Linked DNA regions of Homo sapiens: region 1 is linked to region 2. The links come from fine-mapping of genetic effects on gene expression. A gene starts in region 2. The other region holds a variant in brackets. All regions are shown on one strand. Distances are from middle to middle. Region 1 holds the start of LOC124904633 (a long non-coding RNA gene). Region 2 holds the start of MYO1F (myosin IF).

What was found.
Region 1: its variant is fine-mapped to the expression of MYO1F in whole blood (INTERVAL, PIP above 0.99).

The regions. Positions count from the first base shown.
Region 1 is chr19:8,519,159-8,529,316 of GRCh38, forward strand. MYO1F (myosin IF) reads right to left here. Exons shown (of 28, transcript NM_012335.4): 22 at 8,180-8,325; 23 at 7,631-7,777; 24 at 7,295-7,443; 25 at 6,321-6,404; 26 at 3,476-3,671; 27 at 3,219-3,388; 28 at 1,620-2,446. The coding sequence ends at 2,370. It overlaps LOC124904633 (a long non-coding RNA gene), which reads left to right and starts at 7,287. Exons shown (of 3, transcript XR_007067131.1): 1 at 7,287-7,386. RefSeq lists enhancers at 3,519-4,018, 6,595-7,570 and a silencer at 6,475-6,554. The variant CT/C (reference allele first, on the strand shown) is at 3,877.
Region 2 is chr19:8,571,850-8,582,799 of GRCh38, forward strand. MYO1F (myosin IF) reads right to left here and starts at 5,593. Exons shown (of 28, transcript NM_012335.4): 1 at 5,458-5,593. The coding sequence starts at 5,460. It overlaps ADAMTS10 (ADAM metallopeptidase with thrombospondin type 1 motif 10), which reads right to left. Exons shown (of 26, transcript NM_030957.4): 26 at 8,391-9,153. The coding sequence ends at 9,044. RefSeq lists enhancers at 4,038-4,097, 4,438-4,497, 4,668-4,847 and silencers at 4,968-5,017, 5,555-5,704, 6,925-7,119, 8,931-8,980.

The DNA of each region.
Region 1 (10,158 bases), 53 kb before region 2:
GTCTCACTCTGTCACCCAGGCTGGGGTGCAGTGGCGCCATCTCGGCTCACTGCAACCTCCGCCTCCCAGGTTCAAGCAATTCTGCTGCCTCAGCCTCCCGAGTAGCTGGGACCACGGGCGCGCACCATCACGCCCGGCTAATTTTTTGTATTTTTAGCAGAGATGGGGTTTCACTGTGTTAGCCAGGATGGTCTCGATCTCCTGACCTTATGATCTGCCCGCCTTGGCCTCCCAAAGTGCTGGGATTACAAGTGTGACCCACCGTGCCCGGCCAATTTTAAAATTTTTTTGTAGAGACAGGGTATTAGTAGGTTGCCTAGGGTGGTCAAACCTTAAGTGATCCTCCTGCCTTGGCCTCCCAAAGTGCTGGGATTACAGCTGTGAGGCACCATGCTTGGCCAGGATTTGGTTTATTTTAGTATTAGAGACAGGGTCTTGCTGAGTTGCCCAGGCTGGAGTGCAGTGACGCGATCATAGCTCACTTCAGCCTTGAACTCCCGGGATCAAGTGATCCTCCAGCCTCGGCCTCACAAAGTGCTGGGACTACAGGCATGCACCACCACTCCCAAAATTCAGGAATTTTTTTTTTTTTTTGAGACAGAGTCTCACTCTATTGCTCAGACTGGAATTCCATGGTGCAGTCTTGGCTCACTGCAGCCTCCACCTCCTGCCTCAGCCTCTCAAGTATCAGGGACTACAGGCACGTGCCACCATGCCCAGCTAATTTTTGTATTTTTAGTAGAGACAGGGTTTCACCATGTTGGTGAGGCTGGTCTGGAACTCCTGACCTCAGATGATCCGCCCGCCTTGGCCTCCCAAAGTGCTGGGATTACAGGCATGAGCCACTGCGCCCAGCCCAAAATTCAGGATCTTTAGGCTCAGACCATAGCAGGACTCCAGTCTTAGTCCCAGTTAGGTGAAGACTAAGAGGGCACAGAAATGGGATTGGGGTGCAGGGGGCAGGAGTGACCCAGAGTGCATTGAGGGTGGGAGCATGTGGCATGTGGGACCTGCCTCTCTCCATAGGTCCCAGATGGGTTTGGCGGCTGTAGCTTCAAGACTAACAGGACCTGCTGGACCATTTGGGATGCAGATTTTGGAAGGGAAACTGAGACAAATTCTTTATTTTCTTTTCTTTCTTTTTTTTTTTTTTGAGATGGAGTCTCGCTCTGTTGCCCAGGCTGGAGGGCAGTGGCGCAATCTCGGCTCACTGCAAGCTCCTTCTCCCAGGTTCATGCCATTTTCCTGCCTCAGCCTCCCGAGCAGCTGGGACTACAGGCGCCCGCCACCACGCCCGGCTACTTTTTTGTATTTTTAGTAGAGACAAGGTTTCCCCATGTTAGCCAGGATGGTCTCGATCTCCTGACCTTGTGATCTGCCCGCCTCGGCCTCCCAAAGTGCTAGGATTACAGGTGTGAGGCACCGCGCCCACCTCCTCCCTCCCTCCCTCCCTTCCTTCCTTTCTTTTTTTCTGAGACAGGGTCTTGCTCTGTTGCCCAGGCTGGAGTGCAGTGGCATGATCTCGGCTCACGGCAGCCTCTGCCTCCCGGGTTCAAGTGATTCTCCTGCTTCAGCCTTCCCAGTAGCTGGGATTACAGGCAGGCACCACCACACCCGGCTTTTTTTTTTTTCTTTTTTAAATTTTTAGTAGAAACAGGGTTTTGCTGTGTTATCCAGGCTGGTCTTGAACTCCTGGTCTCACGTGATCTGCCCGCCTCAGCCTCCCAAAGTGCTGGGATTACAGGCGTGAGCCACTGCGCCCAGCCCAAACTGGGACAAATTCAAGCTTTATGGTCACATATGAATGCAAGGCATGGCTCTGTGCAGTCTTGGGTCAGTGAACCTCTCTGAACCTCCATTGTTCCACCTGTAAGATGGGGTCCTTCACAGCTCCTACCTCACAGGGCTGTGAAAACATCGTCCTTGTTGGGCACTTAGTAAGTTAACTCGTGCTTTCACCTGGCAAAGGTTTATTGCCTTAGTGATGACAGAATGAGCAAAGTCACGCTTGTTAAGGACCCCCCCCTCCCCAACTGTGCCTGGCACTTTGCCAACAGCACAGGACTCAAGACCCATTTCTTAATCACATGGCAGTTGGGAGGTAGATTCTGCTGTTAGTCCCCTTTGACACACACAGAAATGGAGAATGGGCAGCAGGTGTGATGTTGGAGGAAGACCAGGGCCCAGGGGCGGGGGCTGCAGCAGTGACCTGGTGACCCAGGGCCTGGGCAGGACTGGAGGCCAAAGGACTGGACTTTTAGGCTATTGCAGCCCAGGTAAACGAGGCTCTCATTGGCAGGGCCTGGCTCCCCACCAGGCCGGCAGGCAGATAGGCGGGCGAAAGAGAAGGCAGTATCCCAGGGCCCAGCTCAGATCTTCTCCACGTAGTTTCCTGGGAAAAGGCCCTCCTGGCCGTGAAGCCGGCCCTTCCACCAGCCCGAGGGATCTGTGGGAGAGAGGAAAGCTTGAGGTGCCCCTAGCTGGCCCTGGAGAAAGCTCTCATGCCTGGTCTGTCCATCTTGTTCATGGGGACTCCCTATGTTGTCCAGGCTGGTCTTAAACTCCTAGGCTTAAGCCATCCTCCTGCCTCAGCCTCCCAAAGTGCTGGAATTACAGGTGTGAGCCACTGCATCCGGCCATTTCTACTCTTTAAAAGTTTTTTTTTTGTAAATCTTTTGTAGAGATGGGGTCTTGCTAGGTTGCCCAGGCTTGTCTCAAACTCCTGACCTCAAGTGATCCTCCTGCCTCAGCCACTGAAAGTGCTGGGATTACAGGTATGAGCCACCTCGCCCATCTGTTATCTCTGTTCTCCCGTGGGGAGGGTGTGCAGTGGTGGGGTCTGCCTGGCAATGTCAGTCAGGGTTCTTTTTTTTTTTTTTTTTGAGACGGAGTCTCGCTCTATCGCCCAGGCTGGAGTGTGTTGGCGCAATCTCGGCTCACTGCAAGCTCCGCCTCCCGGGTTCATGCCATTCTCCTGCCTCAGCCTCCCGAGTAGCTGGGACTACAGGCGCCCGCCACCACGCCCGGCTAATTTTTTGTATTTTTAGTAGAGACGGGGTTTCACTGTGTTAGCCAGGATGGTCTCGATCTCCTGACCTCGTGATCTGCCCGCCTTGGCCTCCCAAAATGCTGGGATTACAGGCGTGAGCCACCGCGCCCGGCCGATGTCAGGGTTCTTACCACTCCCCTCACCCCAGCTTCTGCCCTGGTACACACACCTTCCATGAGGATCTCAATGACCTCGTTCACGTTGAAGCTCAGCTCGTCCACATCTTGGCCCACGTACTGGTATAGGGCCCGGCACCTGGGACCATGTGTCCGAGGCTGGGGCTTGGGTCGGCCCACACCAGGCACTGGCCGTTGCCCCACGCTGCGCTTCCTCTGCATGCTGTGGGCACAGGGGGTTTGAGTCACAGCCCCAGACACTCCCCTACCCCCTGCCCACCTCCTGGAGCTGCCCTCCCACCCCACCTACCCGGCCATGCCCTGGTCAGGCACGTTGAGGAATTCTGTGTTGTGCTCTGAGGGCGGACGTGCCCGGGGTCGTCTGCTGGCTCCCAGGGATGTGGACGGAGGGCCCCGGGGAGGCCTGTGGGTGCCCCCTCCAGACATGATCTCCAGGGGCAGGGGGCCCCCTCTGGCAGAGGGGGGCACCCCATTGCGATCCATGCCTGTGGCAGGAGCAAGGATGAAGACATGTATTAGGGTGATGCTAGGAGGATTTGAGGAGGACTTGGCTTCAAGTTCTCAGGCTGAGGGAGGAGACTGCGACACTCTCAACCCAGTGTGGTAAGGATTGGGCCAGACGGAGGGACTCTGCCGCTAGGAGGGCCTAGACAGAAGCTTTTTTAAGCATAATTTTAAAATTATTTTTTA[CT/C]TTTTTTTTTTTTTGAGATGGAGTCTTGCTCAGTCGCTCAGGCTGGAGTGCAGTGGCGCGATCTCGGCTCACTGCAAGCTCCGCCTCCTGGGTTCACGCCATTCTCCTGCCTCAGCCTCCCGAGTAGCTGGGACTACAGGCACCTGCCACCACGCCTGGATAATTTTTTAAATATTTTTAGTAGAGACGGAGTTTCATCATGTTAGCCAGGATGGTCTCGATCTCCTGACCTTGTGATCCGCCCGCCTTGGCCTCCCAAAGTGCTGGGATTACAGGCATGAGCCACCGCGCCTGGCCAATTATTTTTTACTTTTATTTGTTTATTTTGAGACATGGTCTCACTCTCGCCCAGGTTGGAGTGCAGTGGTACAATCGTAGCTCACTGCAACTCTGACCTCCTGGGCTCAAGCAATCCTCCCTCCTTAGCCTCCTTTTAAGGGGAGCTGGGACTACAGGTATGCTCCACTATGCCCAGTTGATTTTTATAATTTTTAAAGTAGAGATGGGGTCTCACTATGTTGCTCAGGCTGGTCTCAAACTCCTGGCCTCAAGCAATCCTCCCACTTCGGCCTCCCAACATGCTGGTTTTACAGGCATGAGCCACTGTACTTGGCCTTATTTATTTTTTATTTGTTTAGAGACAGGGTTTTGCTCTGTGGCCCAGGATGGAGTGCAGCAGTGAGATCATAGCTCACTGCAGACTCCAACTCTTAGGCTCATGATATTCTCCCCTCTCAGCCTCCTAAATAGCTGGGACTATAGGCACACACCACCATGCCCAGCTAATTTAAAAAGAATTTTTAGGCTAGGCGCGGTGGCTCACGCCTGTAATCCTAGCACTTTGGGAGGCTAAGGTGGGCTGATCACGAGGTCTGGAGTTTGAGACAAGCCTGGCCAACATAGTGAAACTCTGCCTCTACTAAAAATACAAAAATTAGCCAGGCATGATGGCGTGTGCCTGTAGTCCCAGCTACTCGGGAGGCTGAGGCAGGAGAATTGCTTCAACCTGGGAGGTGGAGGTTACAGTGAGCCAAGATCACGCCACTGCACTCCAGCCTGGGCAACAGAGCAAGACACCGTCTCAAAAAAAAAAAAAAAAAAAAGGCCGGGCGCGGTGGCTCACACCTGTAATCCCAGCAGTTTGGGAGGCCGAGGCGGGTGGATCACGAGGTCAGGAGTTCCAGACCAGTCTGGCCAACATGGTGAAACCTTGTCTCTACTAAAGATAAAATTAGCTGGGCATGGTGGTGCATGCCTGTAATCCCAGCTACTGGGGAGGCTGAGGCAGGAGAATCTCTTGAACCCAGAAGGTGGAAAGTTGCAGTGCGCTGAGACCGCACCATTGCACCCCAGCCTGGGCAACAGGGCTAGACTCTGTCTCAAAAAAAAAAAAAAAAAAAAAATCTAGGCGTGGTAGCACACGCCTGTAGTCCCAGCTACTCAGGGGGCTGAGGCAGGAGAATCGCTTGAACCCAGGAGGTGGATGTTGCAGTGAGCCAAGATCATGCCACTGCACTCCAGCCTGGGTGACAGAGCGAGACTGTCTCAAAAAAAAAAAAAAAAAGAAAGAATTTTTGGTAGAGACAGGATCTTGCTATGTTGCCCAGGCTGATCTTGAACTCAAGTGATCCTCCTGCCTTGGCCTACCAAGAGTGCTTGGATTACAGGTGTGAGCCATCTTGCCTGGCCAGGAGTGGCTTTGCAGGGGCAAGTTTCCCTCCTCCTATCCTCTGTAGGAGAGCTTCTGTGGGTACGTCTTGGTGGATAAATAAGAGCTCAACGAATGGAATGGGAATTTGAGAGAGAAGCAGAGAAAACGGCCCAAAGGCCTGGAGGTAAGAATAAATTTTGTGAATTGGGAAAATAAGATGTAGTTTGAGGCCAGGCGCCGTAGCTCATGCTTGTTAATCCCAGCACTTTCGGAGGCCGAGACGGGCGGGTCACCTGAGGTCAGGAGTTCGAGACCAGCCTGAACAACGTGGTGAAACCCTGTCTCTACTAAAACGATACAAAAATTAGCCGGGCGTGGTGGCGGGTGCCTGTAATCTCAGCTACTCGGGAGGCTGAGGCAGGAGAATCGCTTGAATCCAGGAGGTGAAGGTTGCAGTGAACCGAGATCGCTCCACTGCACCCCAGCCTGGGAGACAGAGTTGGACTCCATCTCAAAAAAAAAAAAAAAAAAAAAAAGATGTAGTTTACAGGGCAGGAGTGTAGGGTAGGAGGAGAGAAGATGTCAGTGGTTAGCTGGGTTTGGGTTTTGAAGGGCTCTGAATGCCAAACTAAGTTTAGCCTTTATTCTGCGGGAGATGTGGAGCTACGGAGAGTCCTGGACAGAGAAGTGAGTGGTAAACTGTGTTTGTTAGATTTCGTTTGCTGAAGGTCTGGCTTAGGCCATGGGACCCACAACAGACAAGGGAATATAGCAAGGGACGCAGCTCCTCACCTCTGGGGGGCGCAGGGGCCGCCCGGGTAGGGGCTTGGGACGACCTCCGAGGTTTTCCCTTGGCCATTCCCTTCCGCGTAGGCTCTGAAAGAAGAGTGTCAGGGAGTTGAATGACAGACAGACCACGCTCTTTGCCCCGCCCACAAATCTAGTCCATTCTGAGGCTCCGCCGCACCCCGCCCCCTCAGGCTCTCCCATTAGCACCGCCCCTTAGGTACAGTTACACTGGCTCCGCCCACTAATTGGCCTCGCCCCCCAAGGGCCCAACACCTCACTGGCCTTGCTCTTTGGGCCCGCCCACTTTAGGTCACTCCTTCATCACTACCCAGTTCCAGGGTTGCCGCTCTGGCCGCACCCCTCTACATTTCTCGCCCCCGCATTGGTCATGTCTTCTCCTTAACAGTCTTTCTCTCTCTCTAGACCCGCCCCTTCCTTGCTGTTGCCCTCTCTGGTCCAGCCTGCTGGCCCCGCCCCACTATTTTGATTGGTTTCCTCCATGGCCACGTCCCTCCTCCACATTTCACGCCCACTAATTGGTTGCGGCCTTTGTTTAAAAGTCTGTCTCTCTGGCCGGGCGCAGTGGCTCACGCCTGTAATCCCAGCACTTTGGGAGGCCGAGGCGGGTGGAGCATGAGGTAATGAGTTCAAGACCAGCCTGGCCAAGATGGTGAAACCCCGTCTCTACTAAAACTACAAAAATTAGCTGGGCGCGGTGGCAGGCGCCTGTAATCCCAGCTACTCGGGAGGCTGAGGCAAGACAATCGCTTGAACCCGGGTGGCGGAGGTTGCGGTGAGCCAAGATCGTGCCACAACACTCCAGCCTGGGCGACAGAGTGAGACTCCGTCTTAAAAAAACCACAAAACTCAAAAGTCTCTCTCTCTCTCTCTGTAGACACTCCCCTTCCTGGCCTTCGTCCACTCTTAACCAGCCTCGCTGGCCCCGCCCCCTCTGCCCTAGTTCCGCGCAGACTCACTGGAGCTCTTGGGCAGCCCATCGCCCACGCTGACCGTGAGGGTCCGACCGCCAACCTTGAGCACTGCCAAGTCGCCGAAGCCGCGGGAGAAGGTGACGCTGCGGGTGCCGCCACCGCCCCAGCCCTCCTTCTTCACCCGAAACTGTAGTCTATGGGGAGAGAAGAAAGCTTGGGGGCGCTGGCTGAGGTCCCCCGCCCCACCCAACTCTCGCTGGTTGGGGCAGGGGCGGGGCCGCGGCCGGGGCCGAAGCGCAGTTCGGCCGGGTCGGTGGGGCGGGAGAGGGTGCGCCGCGCCGAGACCACCCCGAGATGGTGCTGGGGTTGGCGGGGCCGTACGTGTCGCTGAAGGTGAGGGGCAGGGGCCTCCGCGTCGCCTCCTCGAAGCGCTTGCACAGAAGGCTGACAAACTCGGTCTTGAAGACGCTCTCCAGGAAGCTGTCGGCGGCATCCTCTTGGAGGATGAAGAAGTCGTCCTGTCGCGTGCTGGGGAGGGGCGGGTGAGAGCGTCAGGTGGGACACAGGTGAGGGCGACAGGTGAGAGAGACAGATGAAGGTGGCTGAAGGTGGATTTAGGGAAGGGTCAGCTAAGGGCCAAGTCAGCGGTGACCAGGTAGGAGAAAAAGGGGGATGTGGCAAGGAGTGGAAGAGGTGGTTACAGAAGAGGGCCAGGTGAGGTCTAGTAAGAGGGTAAGGTGCAGGACGGAAGGATTTGGCATCTAAGGATCATGAGCATAGGGGGCAGGTGAACATGACAGGTGGGGCCAACAGAGGGCTACAGGCATGGCACCAGGTAAGATTGTCAGGGTAACAGACGGGGTCACTAGAATGAGGGCAGCCAGGGGACAGGTGAGAGTGACTGTGCGGCAGGTAAGGACCTGGCTTCACCTGAGGGAGACTCCCCGCAGAGCCTGGATGTCCACTTTCTTCTTCAAGACTTCACACACCTGGCCCTTCTCAGGTCCCTTCTTCACTTTCTCTCGCCCAATCACATACACACACTTGGGCGTCAGGATCAAGTCCCGCTTGATGGGCTGTGGGGATGCAGGATTAGAGGCTGATGCCTGTAGCCTGGCCAGCCTGGCCACAGAGGATCCACCCCAGGCAGAGGGGTGGTGCTGGCAGGTCAGGTGAGGAAGGTGGGAGCCCTCCAGGTGAAGGTGTATGAGTCGTCTGTTTTGTAGACAGGGTCTCACTCTGTCGCTCAGGCTGGAGTGCAGTGGTGCCATCATAGCTCACTGCAACCTCCCCCTCCTGGGCTTGAGTGATCCACCTGCCTCAGCCTCCTGAGTAGCTGGGACCACAGGTGCGCACCACCATGCCCAGCTAATTTTGGTATTTTTTGTAGATTCAGGGTTTTGCCCTGTTGCCCAGGCTGGTCTTGAGCTCCTGATCTCAAGCAAACTGTCCTCCTTGGCCTCCCAAAGGGTTGGGATTACAGGTGTGCGCCACCACGCCTGGCCATGAGTTGTTATATAAGAAACAGAAGGAGGGCTGGGTGCCATGGCTCACGCCTGTAATCCCAGCATTTTGGGAGGCCGAGGCGGGCAGATCATGAGGTCAGGAGTTTGAAACCAGGCTGACCAACATGGTGAAACCCCGTCTCTACTAAAAATACAAAAATTAGCTGGGCGAGGTGGTGGGCACCTGTAGTCCCAGCTACTCAGGAGGCTGAGACAGGAGAATCGCTTGAACCCAGGAGGATGAGGTTGCAGTGAGCCGAGATCCTGCCACTGCACTCCAGCCTGGGTGACAGAGCAAGACCCTGTCTCAAAAACAAACAAACAAAAAATAACAGATCAGGCGCGGTGGCACACGCCTGTAATCCCAGCACTTTGGGAGGCTGAGGTGGGTGGATCACAAGGTCAGAAGATTGAGACCATCCTGGCTAATACCATGAAACCCCATCTCTACTAAAAATACAAAAAACTAGCTGGGCGTGGTGGCACATGCCTGTAGTCCCAGCTACTCGGGAGGCTGAGGCAGGAGAATTGCTTGAGCCTGGGAGGCAGAGGTTGCAGTGAGCCGAGGTTGTGCCACTGCACTCCAGCCTGGGCGACATAACAAGATTCTGACTCAACACACACACACAAAAGAGCAAAACTCTGTCTCAAAAAAACAAAAAAGAAAAACAAAAAAGAAACGAGGTCAGATGGGAATGTGTTGGTTGGTTGGTTGGCTAGAAAAGGGTGTTTGGGTCAGTGAACAGGTGCTGGGTAGGTAAGGCACCTGCTGGACATGGGTTCCCGGGCCAGATGAGAACACTTAGACCAGGTGAAAGTACTTGGGTCATGTGACTGTAGCCAGCTCAGGTAAAGGTATTATGGTTCAGGTGAGGGTGTACAAGTCAGGTAAATAGGAGTATCTGGATCATGAGAGGAAGTGAGCGGGTGTGTATCTGAACTCTATGAGTTTGTACAGGAAGGCAGGTGAGGGTGTACCTGGTAGAAGGGTGAATGTGCAAGCCGGTTGAGCTGGCCTGCGGTCAGAGTTCTCTGGGTCTAGTGGGGATACCTGTCTCAGTGAAAACATTTAAGGTGATGGTATACAGGTCACCTGAGAGGGCATACCTGCCACACAGACCTGTCCAAAGCAGGTGGGTGGATCAGGTGAAGGTACCCAATAATGTGTGTCTGGTATGTGAAGTTGTACAGATCATGTGAGGAGGCACCTGCCACATAAACTTGTCCAAGGTAGGTGAGGGTGTCCAGGCCATATGAGACTATCCATCCAGGTAAAGATGGTATATAGGTGATCTCAGTGTGTACCTGCCACACATAGGCCTCTCTAAGGTGAGGGTAGGGTGAGTTACTGGGCTAGGTGACTCTCTGGGACATGAGATATGGGTCAAGTGAGTGTGTACCTGG
Region 2 (10,950 bases):
GCCTCCCAAAGTGCTGGGATTATAGGTGTAAGCCACCGCGCCCAGCCCCTGTATTTTTAGAGACGGGGTTTCACTGTGTTAGCCAGGATGGTCTCGATCTCCTGACTTCGTGATCCGCACGCCTCGGCCTCCTAAAGTATTGGGATTACAGGCGTAAGCCACCGCGCCTGGCCTTTATACGTGGGGACCCTTGTCTTTCTGGAGCTGGGCTCTTTGTCTCGTCGCTGGAGATTGCTGACAGTCGGTGGCTACCGTCTCAAACATCTCCACGCAGAAGCTGGAGCTGGGGAACCCTGGTCTTGTCCCTCCTGCTTTTTGGGGAAGATCCTCTGGGATGTGGTCCCCAACCCCCAAGACAGAAACCTGCCTGTCTCTGATTCATTGTTACGTTCACTCTTTGCATCCAATCAATTATGGGCATTTTTTTTTCCCCTCTGAGACAGAGTCTCGCTCTGTTGCCCAAGCTGGAGTGTAGTGGTGCGATCTCAGCTCACTGCAACCTCTGCCTCTCGGGTTCAAGCGATTCTGCTGCCTCAGCCTCCTGAGTAGCTGGGATTACAGGCACATGCCACCCCGCTTGGCTAATTTTTGTATTTTTAGTAGAGATGGGGTTTCACCATGGTGGCCAGACTGGTCTCGAACACCTGACCTCAAGTGATCCACCTGCCTCGGCCTCCTAAAGTGCTGGGATTACAGGTGTGAGCCACTGTGCCCGTGCCCAGTTAGTGGTCTTAACTGATTCTTTCTCCTAAATTCCTTTTGACTCCCAGCCTTTCCTGTCCATCCTCATGGCCACTGATTCTGGACCCAGCAGCCACTTCACTGGTCTCCCTGCTTTGTGGCTGTATCTTATTTATTTGTTTAGAAACAGAGTCTGTCTCTGTTGCTCAGGCTGGAGTGCAGTGGGGCCATCACAGCTCACTGCAGCCTGGAACTCCTGGGCTCAAGTGATCTTCCCACCTCAGCTTCCCAATTAGCTGGTACTACAGGTCCATGCCACCATGCCTGGCTAACTTTTAAATGCTTTGTAGAGATGGGGTATTGCCATGTCTCCCAGGCTGGTCTCGAACATCTGGCCTCAAGTGATCCTCCCACCTCCGTCTTCCAAACTGTTGGGATTACAGGCATGAGCCATTGTTCCTGGCCCTGTGACTGTACCTTAGAAACAATCACTATTGGCCAGGTGTGGTGGCTCACGCCTATAATCCCAGCACTTTGGGAGGCTGAGGCGGGCAGATCACGAGGTCAGGAGATCGAGACCATCCTTGCTAACACGGTGAAACCCCATCTCTACTAAAAAAATAGAAAAAAATTAGCCAGGCATGGTGGCGGGCGCCTGTAGTCCCAGCTACTCGGGAGGCTGAGGCAGGAGAATGGCATGAACCTAGGAGGTGGGGCTTGCAGTGAGCCAAGATCATGCCACTGCACTCCATCCTGGGTGACAGAGCGAGACTCTGTCTCAAAAAAAAAAGAAGAGACAATCACTATTATCCTCACATGACCACCATCACCAACCAAAGGCAACCAGTGAACGTCTTCACTCTCTCTCCTACCCTTCTCAAAGACAAACAGAAACTGCTGATAACTCCAATACCATCATGACTAGCCAATGTCAGACAGGTCCCATGAGCAATTCCAGCATCAGCCTTCCTTACATTCTCCCACGATCACCACCACCACCACCACCACGCTATAATAACCAACCACCATCTAGTCATCGGCCAGGCACAGTGGCTCACACCTGTAATCTCACACTTTGGGAGGCCAAAGCGGGTGGATCACTTGAGGTTAGGAGTTGGAGACCAGCCTGGCCAACATGGCGAAACCCCGTCTCCACTAAAAGCACAAAAATTAGCTGGGTGTGGTGGCAGGTGCTTGTAATCTCAGCTACTTGGGAGGCTGAGGCACGAGAATTGCTTGAAGCCAGGAGGTGGAGGTTGCAGTGAGCCGAGATTGCACCACTGCACTCCAGCCGGGGTGACAGAGCGAGACTCTGTCTCAGAAACAAAACAAAACAAAAAAACAATACTAGCCATCAACAACCACACATAACCAACTACCATTAGCAACCACAGAAAGCAGCAGTCACCAGTCCTATCCTGTTCAAAACCCAACATTGAACCAGCACCACCATTGCTGATCATCATCTTACCAGAAACCAACAATAAACTACCAGCAGCAAATGAACGCTACTACCAACACCTTTCCTCTCCAAATAACAGCAACCACCGATGGTCATCATTCCACTGGTCACCAAGCATCTCCAGAATTTCCAGCTGAAAACAATCCACCACCAACGAACAACATTAAACACCAACCGCCACCACCACCAGCCCACCTGCAAGAGCCATTATCACCACGAACCTGCAACAAGAAACAGCCACAACCACCACCACAACCAATGACACCAACAACCCAGCAATGACCACTCGCAGCAACTCCTCCCCAATTACCACAATCGTCACCTCCGTCCATCCTCATTGCTGAATCCAGAAATGAATGGACATCCCAGCTAATGGCAGCTACCATGGATCAAGTGCATGTTATGTGCTCTGTAAAGCAATGGTCCCCAACATTTTTGGCACCAGAGACCGGTTTAATGGAAGACAATTTTTCCATGGACCATGGAGCGGGGCATTAGATTTTCTTTTCTTTCTTTTCCTTTATTTCTTCTTTTTTCCCTTTCTTTCTTTCTTTCTTTCTTTCTTTCTTTCTTTCTTTCTTTCTTTCTCTCTCTCTCTCTCTCTCTTTCTTTCTTTCTTTCTTTCTTTCTTTCTTTCTTTCTTTCTTTCTTTCCTTTCTTTCTCTTTCTTCTTTCTCTCTTTCTTTCTTTCTTCCTTTCTCTTTCTCTCTTTCTTTCTTTTTCTTTCTCTTTCTTTCTTTCTTTTTCTTTCTTTCTTTCTCTCTCTCTTTCTTTTTTTTTTGAGATGGAGCCTCTCTCTGTGGCCCAGGCTGGAGTGCAGTGGCGTGATCTCGTCTCATTGCGACCTCTGCCTCCTGGGTTCAAGTGATTCTCCTATCTCAGGTTCCCGGGTAGCTGGGGTTACAGGCGCGCACCACCACGACTGGCTAATTTTTGTATTTTTAGTAGAGACAGGGTTTTGCCATGTTGGCCAGGCTGGTCTTGAACTCTTGACCTCAGGTGATCCGCCCACCTCGGCCTCCAAAAGTGTTGAGATTACAGGCATGAGCCACTGCACCCTGCCAACGGCATTAGATTTTCTTTTTCTTTTTTTTTTTTTTTTGAGACGGAGTCTGGCTCTGTCGCCGAGGCTGTAGTGCAATGGTGTGATCTTGGCTCACTGCAACCTCCGCCTCCCGGGTTCAAGCGATTCTCCTGCCTCAGCCTCCCGAGTAGCTAGGATGACAGGCATGTGCCACCACACCCAGCTCATTTTTGTATTTTTAGGAGAGACGGGGTCTCACCACGTTGGCCAGGATCGTTTCTATCTCTTGACTTCGTGATCTGCCCGCCTCGGCCTCCCAAAGTGCTAGGATTACAGGTGTGAGCCACCGCACCCGGCCGGGCATTAGATTGTCATAAGCAGCATGCAACCTGGATCCCTCGTGTGTGCAGTTCACAACAGGGTTTGCGATCCTGTGATAATCTAATGGCGCCCCCGAGAATCTGAGAGGAGGTGGAGCTCGGGCTTGCTTGCCTGCCACTCATCTCCTGCTCTGTGACCCGATAGGGCTCATGGTTTCTAACAGACAGACCATGGCCCGATAGCAGTCCATGACCCCGGGGGTTGGGGACCCTGTTGTAAAGGACTTCAGAAATACTGTTTCATTGAATCCTTCAGCGATCTTCCTGGCATTCACCACTCCTCCAGGAAGATTTCAGCATCCCCAGACAGAGGTGGGTGTCATTTTTTTCTCTTCTATCATCCTCTGCGATACGGGTGGCCCCTCCCAGACCTTGTCTGCCAAGCCGACTGTTGACTAAGCATTTTCAGAGGGCTTCCTTGGGGAGGGGTTGCCTTTCTTTCAAGTAGCAAATCACTTCCTGTGTTCTTTTGATCAAAGCCCTGCCCATCCCAGGACCTGAGCCTCCCTGGCTTGCTTCTCATCTTGGAAGAATTCCCACCCCAACAGTCTCAGAGCTCCAGCTGATGGTTTGGGTGTGAATTCCGGGATGCCCAATTTCTCATCAGCTTTCCTTTTTTGAGACGGAGTGTGCTCTGTCACCCAGGCTGGAGTGCAGCGGCAGGATCTCAGCTCACTGCACCCTCCGCCTCCTGGGTTCAAGTTATTCTCTTGCCTCAGCCTCATATGTAGCTGGGATTACAGGCGTGTGCCACCACGCCCAGTTAATTTTTTGTATTTTTTAGTAGAGACGAGGTTTCACCACGTTGGCCAGGCTGGTCTCGAACACCTGACCTCAAGTGATCTACCTGTCTCAGCCTCCTAAAATGCTGGGATTACAGGCATGAGCCACTGTCCCTGGCCCTCACTGGCTTCCTGAAAGAAGGTGTTGTCTCTCAGACTAACACCACCTCTGCCTCTTGCCCTATGTCCCTGACTCCACCCTAGTAAGCTGTACCTGCCAAGAATCCTGCAGTGGCCGCTGTCACAGCCACATGCTCTCATCCTCACTGACTGAATGACGAGAAATGAAAGCTGAAGTGGTCTACACAGCAGAGAGCTGTGGGGTGGGGTCAGCCCTGGCCACCTCTTACTTTGCGTCTTATGGTGGTACGATACTGCTAGGAATAGCGCCATGATCACGACAGTCTCCCCGTTGCTATCATCGACAGACCTCAGACTTGACAGGCAGCAACACCTCTGGCTGCCATCCTCCTCTTGGGATAAGGGATGCCCACCAAAGGGTGGCATGGACGTATTCAGCCTCTCCTGCCTCTGCTGCAGCCATACCGCCCGTCACCGGCACAGGGAGGGCGTCAATCCACCCCATCGCTTGTTAGACATAGCTTCCCATCTCAGCCGAGGACTCTGTGGCAGAACCCACAGACCTTGAGAATGTTGCAACTGAAAGACCCCTGAAGAGCAACTTCCGCATCTAGACGGATTTCCAAATATGACATCTGTGGGAACCGGGGCCAAGAGAGGGGAAGTGACTAGCCCAAGGCTACACAGGGAGACGAGAGACTGGGCTGGACTGGGAAAGGGCTCCCTTAATTTGCAAGCAAAGGAGGCTATGTCCTTGTCCCTGCAGACTCTGTGATTCTCCCTGGGCCACCTTCTGTCTTCCAGGTCCTGCCCTATCCTTGGATCCAGGGATACCACCCTGGCATCCCCACCACCTACAGATGGGAGCTTGCTCCCTGGTAAGGGATGCTGGAGGCACCTGAGCTGCACTGAGAGACACCCCACCCCCACAGAAGTCCACCATGCCCCTCCCCTCACCCCAATTTCTGATGGTCATTTTTAGGACACCTCCACCTGGCTGGTGTCCCTCCTCTTTCTTCTTCCAGATCCCACCCTTGAAGGACTTACCATGGTGGGGGGCTGGTGTCTGGGCTCCTGGAGGCTCCTGAATGGGTCGTGATGGAGGTGCAGGTTCAGGGGGATCTTGGGGGTGGCTTGGGCATGGCCCTGCTTCTGCCCGTTCACCGGACTCCCGGCTTTAGTTCCTCTTACAACAGCCCCTTCTCACTTCCTTTGGCGGGAGGGGCCGAGGCCATGGGGGAGGGAAGCTGGGTGTGGAGGGGGGCGGGGAGCTGGCTGTTTGGGGCTCTGAGCCTGAAGGGAGGGGTCAGAACTTGATGGCAGCCACTACTGGACCTCAGAGGCCTCTTCCCCAACTCCTTGGGGACAGGGCTGCTGCAGGAACATTTGGGTCAGCTGGCTGCAGGACGAACCACCTCTTTTCAGGGCGATTCAGGAAGCATTTGGGCTTCCCGGGTCTCTTTTTAAAACCAAGGAAGGGGCCCAGGGGAGGTGGCTCACGCCTGTAATCCCAATACTTTGGGGGGCCAAGGTTGGAGGATCGCTTGAGTCCAGGAGTTTGAGACCAGCCTGGGCTATATAGCATGACCCCATCTCTACAAAAAATGAAAAGAAAAAAAATTAGCTGGGCATGGTGGCATGAGCCTGCAGTCCCAGCTACTCAGAGGGCTGAGGTGGGAGGATTGCTTGAACCTGGGAGGTGGAGGCCTCAGTGAGCCCTGATTGCGCCACTGCACTCCAGCCTGGGCGAAAGAGTGAGACCCTGTCTCTAAAAACAAACCAGAAAAAACAAAAAAACCAAAAAAACAACAACAACAGGGAAGGGTGCCTTCTTCAGCTGTGTCTGCTCTGGGCATCCCTGGGCAACCTCCTTCATTATTATTATTGTTATTATTTTGAGACGGAGTCTAGCTCTGTCACCCAGGCTAGAATGCAGTGGTGCAATCTCAGCTTACTTTAATCTCCGCCTCCTGGGTTCAAGCGATTCTCCTGCCTCAGCCTCCTGAGTAGCTGGGATTACAGGTGCCCACCGCCACACCTGGCTAATATTTGTATTTTTAGTAGAGACGGAATTTCGCCATGTTGGCCAGGCCGGCCTTGAACTCCTGACCTCAGGTGATCCTCCCAACTCGGCCTCCCAAAGTGCTGGGATTACAGGCATAAGCCACCACGCCTGGCCCAACCTCCCTCTTTAGATGACCCTCAGAAGTCACACGTGTTTGTGTGCAGAAGTGGAGGGTACTGGGAAGCAGGTGCATCTGAAAGGTCCCTGACTTTGGATGTCACATCTAGATTTAACAGCCTCCAGTTTGGCTACTTCCTGGATGACTTAGTTACTCCCTTTTCTCATTGTAAAATGGGAACGTGGGTCCCCCCAGCAGAGCCTGGCCCAGGTACGTGTCAGCCTATGAGCTGGTCTTTGGGACACCAGCCAACCACCTGAGGCTCCTCTTGACATGTGAGGAAATGGCAGTTCTAATAGGTTGTTACTTCCCCACACCACCCAGCAAGGAGGTGGCCGAGGCAGGACCCGACCCTGGGAGACCCTGGGGGACCCATGTTCAGATCTATCTTTGGTCCAGGGCGATAAACCCGCATCCCCCTTGAAGATGTTAATATGCAGCGCCCCTAGTGGCCACAGCTGGGAAGGAGCCCGTCTCTGCTGGAATCTCCTGAGCGAGTTTGCAGAATTGACGGGCTTGGGGCATGCAATTCTCAGCAATGTCTCCAGGCACTCAAGAGTGAATATGAATGGGTAAGAGGACCCCACTTTGTTGGGGGCCATCAGGGGAGGCTTCTAGGAAGAGGCAACGTTTGTGCTGACACCGGCGAGTAAGCTGGAGTTAAAAAAGGTAAAGGGGCAGGAGCGTGCACCTGGCCATGCTAAGCGCTCAAGCAAAGGCCCAGATATGGGAAAACCATAGGGCAATTGAGGAAGTTCGGGGAGGCTGGTGTGGCTGGAGCATGCGGAGTGACGGAGAGTGTGATGGCCAGGGTGGCAGGTGCTAGACCGTGTGGCTTTAAGAGCCTCTGTGAGGGCCAGGCATGGTGGCTGATGCCTGTAATCCCAGAACTTTGGGAGGCTGAGGTGGGAGGATCGCTTGAGCCCAGGAGTTCCAGACCAGCTTGGGCAACATAGCAAGACCTCGTCTCTACAAAAAATTAAAAAATCAGCTAGGTGTGCTGTTGCACCTATAATCTCAGTTACTTGGCAGGGTAGGCAGGAGAATCGTTTAAGCCCAGGAGTTCAAGGCTGCAGTGAGCTGAGATCGTGCCACTGAACTCCAGCCTGGGCTACAGAGTGAGACCCTGTCTCAAAAAACAAAAACAAAAAAGCAAAACCCTTCCACGAGAAGCTGTTGTACTTTTCTCCTAAAATCCCTGGGTTCCTGTCTGCAATGTTAAAAGTCCCCTTCTGGCTGGGCACGGTGGCCCATGCCTGTAATCCCAGCACTCTGGGAGGCCGAGGCGGGCAGATCACGAGGTCAGGAGATCGAGACCATCCTGGCTAACACGGTGAAACCCCGTCTCTACTAAAAAAGTACAAAAAATTAGCTGGGCATGTTGGCGGGCGCCTGTAGTGCCAGCTACTCGGGAGGCTGAGGCGAGAATGGCATGAACCCAGGAGGCGGAGCTTGCAGTGAGCCGAGATCGTGCCACTGCACTCCAGCCTGGGCAACAGTGCAAGACTCCGTCTCAAAAAAAAAAAAAAATAAAAAAAAAAAATAAATAAATCAGCTGGGTGTGGTCGTGCACGCCTGTAGTCCCAGCTATTCAGAAGGTGGAAGTGGGAGGATCACTTGAGTCCAGGAGATCAAGGCTGCAGTGAGCTATGATAGGCATAGCTGGGCGACAGGGACCGTCTCAGGAAAAAAAAAAAAGAAGTCCCCTTTTGGCTGTTGGGTAGACCTGGGAGAATGGGTGGTCCTTTCCAGACCTGGGTGGGGGCTACTGGATGCACTGACACACACACACCGCAATTCGTAGAAATCTACACAAGACAGAACTTTATTGATGTAGGGCTTCCTGGCAGGAGTGTGTGGGCCCCAGGGCAGGGTCTGTAGCACCATGAGGGGGTGGCCTGGATGTCGGGGTGCCCCTGGGGCGGGCAGGGCAGAGGTTGGGGTGGATCCTCCCCCTAGTCAGGTCAGGGGAGGGTGTCAGGGAGGTGGTGCTACCCCCCCCCCTCCCATAGCAGACACAGATTCCCCCCCAGCTCGGAGTGGAGGGGTAGGGCAGTGCTGGGGGGCAGGGCACCGGCAGACCACCTCCCCACCCCTACTCTTCACAGTACATATTCCGATCAAAGGAGGGGGGGAGTGTTGGGGACTCCCTAAGGGTGGGTTCAAAGGGTGCTGGGGTGAACAGCTGTCCCCTCCCCAGACCCACCCTGGAGGGGGGGTCTCACTATGTGAACTGGAAGGGGCGGATGCTGAAGAGGGGCTCTGGGGGGATAGCCAGCCCCTCTCCATCCCCCCAGCCAGGGCCCTGCAGGGGTTCCCAATAAATAACTTCCGGCTCCGTCTCACCCTTCCCTCCCAGTTCCCGCCCCCCCGGGGCCCCCTCTGGCCGGCCCGCTGCAGGGCTGGCGGCGGAGACCCCGCCAGCTGTGGCTCCGGGTGCCGCGCGCCCCCTAGTGGCCATGGCAGGTTTTGCAGCACATCTGGCGGAAGTAGGCTCGGCTGCAGAACTGAAATTTGAGCACCAGGGGGCAGTAGGCGACCTTGTTCACATCCTTGCACTCTGCGGGGACGGGAGAAGGAAGGAAAAATCAGGTCTCAGCTGCCCTCCCCGCAGGGCTGCACACACGACCTGCAGTGCTTCCTGGCCAGTGACTTTCTGTGCCTTGGTTTCTTTCTTTTTAAATTTACTTTTTTTTTTTTTTTTTTTTTTTTTTTTTACAGATGTTATCTTGCTATGTTGACCAGGCTGGTCTCCACCTCTTGAGCTCAAGTGATCCTCTCACCTCAGCCTCCTAAGTAGTTGGGACTACAGGTGTGAGCAAACCACGCCTGACTTCTGTGCCTTAGTTTCCTCAACTATCAAAGGGGGCTTATAATAGCACCGATGTCACTAGGCTGTTTTGAGGATTTAAGAGAGAGAGTGTAGGGTTGGGGGCCAACACAGACACATTAGTAATGAGAAAAGGGCCGGGTACAGTGTATCATGCCTGTAATCCCAGCACTTTGGGAGACCAAGGCAGGAGGACTGCTTGAGCCCAGGAGTTTGAGACCAGCCTGGGCAACATAGTGAGAGCACTGCATCTACAAAAACTAATTAAAAGAAAAAAATAGGCTGGGCATGGTGGCTCATGCCTGTAATCTCAGCACTTTGGGAGGCCGAGGCAGGTGGATCACTTCAGGTCGGGAGTTTGAAACCAGCCTGGCCAACGTGATCAAACCCCATCTCTACTAAAAATATAAAAATTAGCTGGGCGTGGTGGCGGGTGCCTGTAATCCCAGCTACTCGACAGCCTGAGGCAGGAGAATTGCCTGAACCCGGGAGGCAGAGGTTTCAGTGAGCCGCGATTGCACCACTGTACTCCAGCCTGGGAGACAGAGCGAGACTCTGTCACAAAACAAAACAAAAAAACAAAAAAACAAAAAAAAAAAAAAGGAAAAATTAGCCGGGTGTTGTGGCATGTGCCTGTAGTCCCAGCTACTCAAGAGGCTGAGGCTGGAGGATCGCTTGAGCCCAGGAGGTGGAGGCTGCAGTGAGCTATGATGGCACCACTGCACTCTAGCCTGGGCGACAGAGCGAGACCCTGTCAAACAAACAAACAAACAAACAAACAAACACGACCCAATAAAACAAAAGAAGACAAATATTCCCTTTCCTTTCCATTGTTCCTTTTCATAGCACCCAGGAAAAAATGTCCATTTGGGGCTGTAATCCTCACTCGTTTTCTTTTTTAATAAAGTGAAGATAGGCCGGGCATGGTGGCTCACGCCTGTAATCACAGCACTTTGGGAGGCTGAGTCGGGCGGATCATGAGGTCAGGAGATCGAGACCATCCTGGCTAACATGGTGAAACCCCGTCTCTACTAAAAATACAAAAATTAGCCGGGCGTGGTGGCAGGCGCCTGTAGTCCCAGCTATTCAGGAGGCTGAGGCAGGAGAATGGCGTGAACCTGGGAGGTGGAGCTTGCAGTGAGCGGAGATTGCATCACTGCATTCCAGCCTGGGCGACAGTGAGACTCCGTCTCAAAACAAAGCAAAACAAAAACAAACAAAACAAAACCTGAAGCTCTTGAGTCCCAGCTGAGTGGGTGAGTCAGGGTATTTTTCAGAACATTGACTATTTTGTGTGATCATGATGTCTGTTGATGACTATGGATGGATATGAGCTTCCATCTAGCGGCCAGTGATTTATGGCAGGACCAGGGGCGAATTAAAAGCTACAGATGGATTTTTTTTTTTTTTTTGGTCGCCCAGGCTGGAGTGCAGTGGCACAATCTTGGCTCACTGCAACCTCCACCTCCTGGGTTCAAGAGACACTCCTGCCTCAGCCTCCCGAGTAGCTGGGATTACAGGCACATG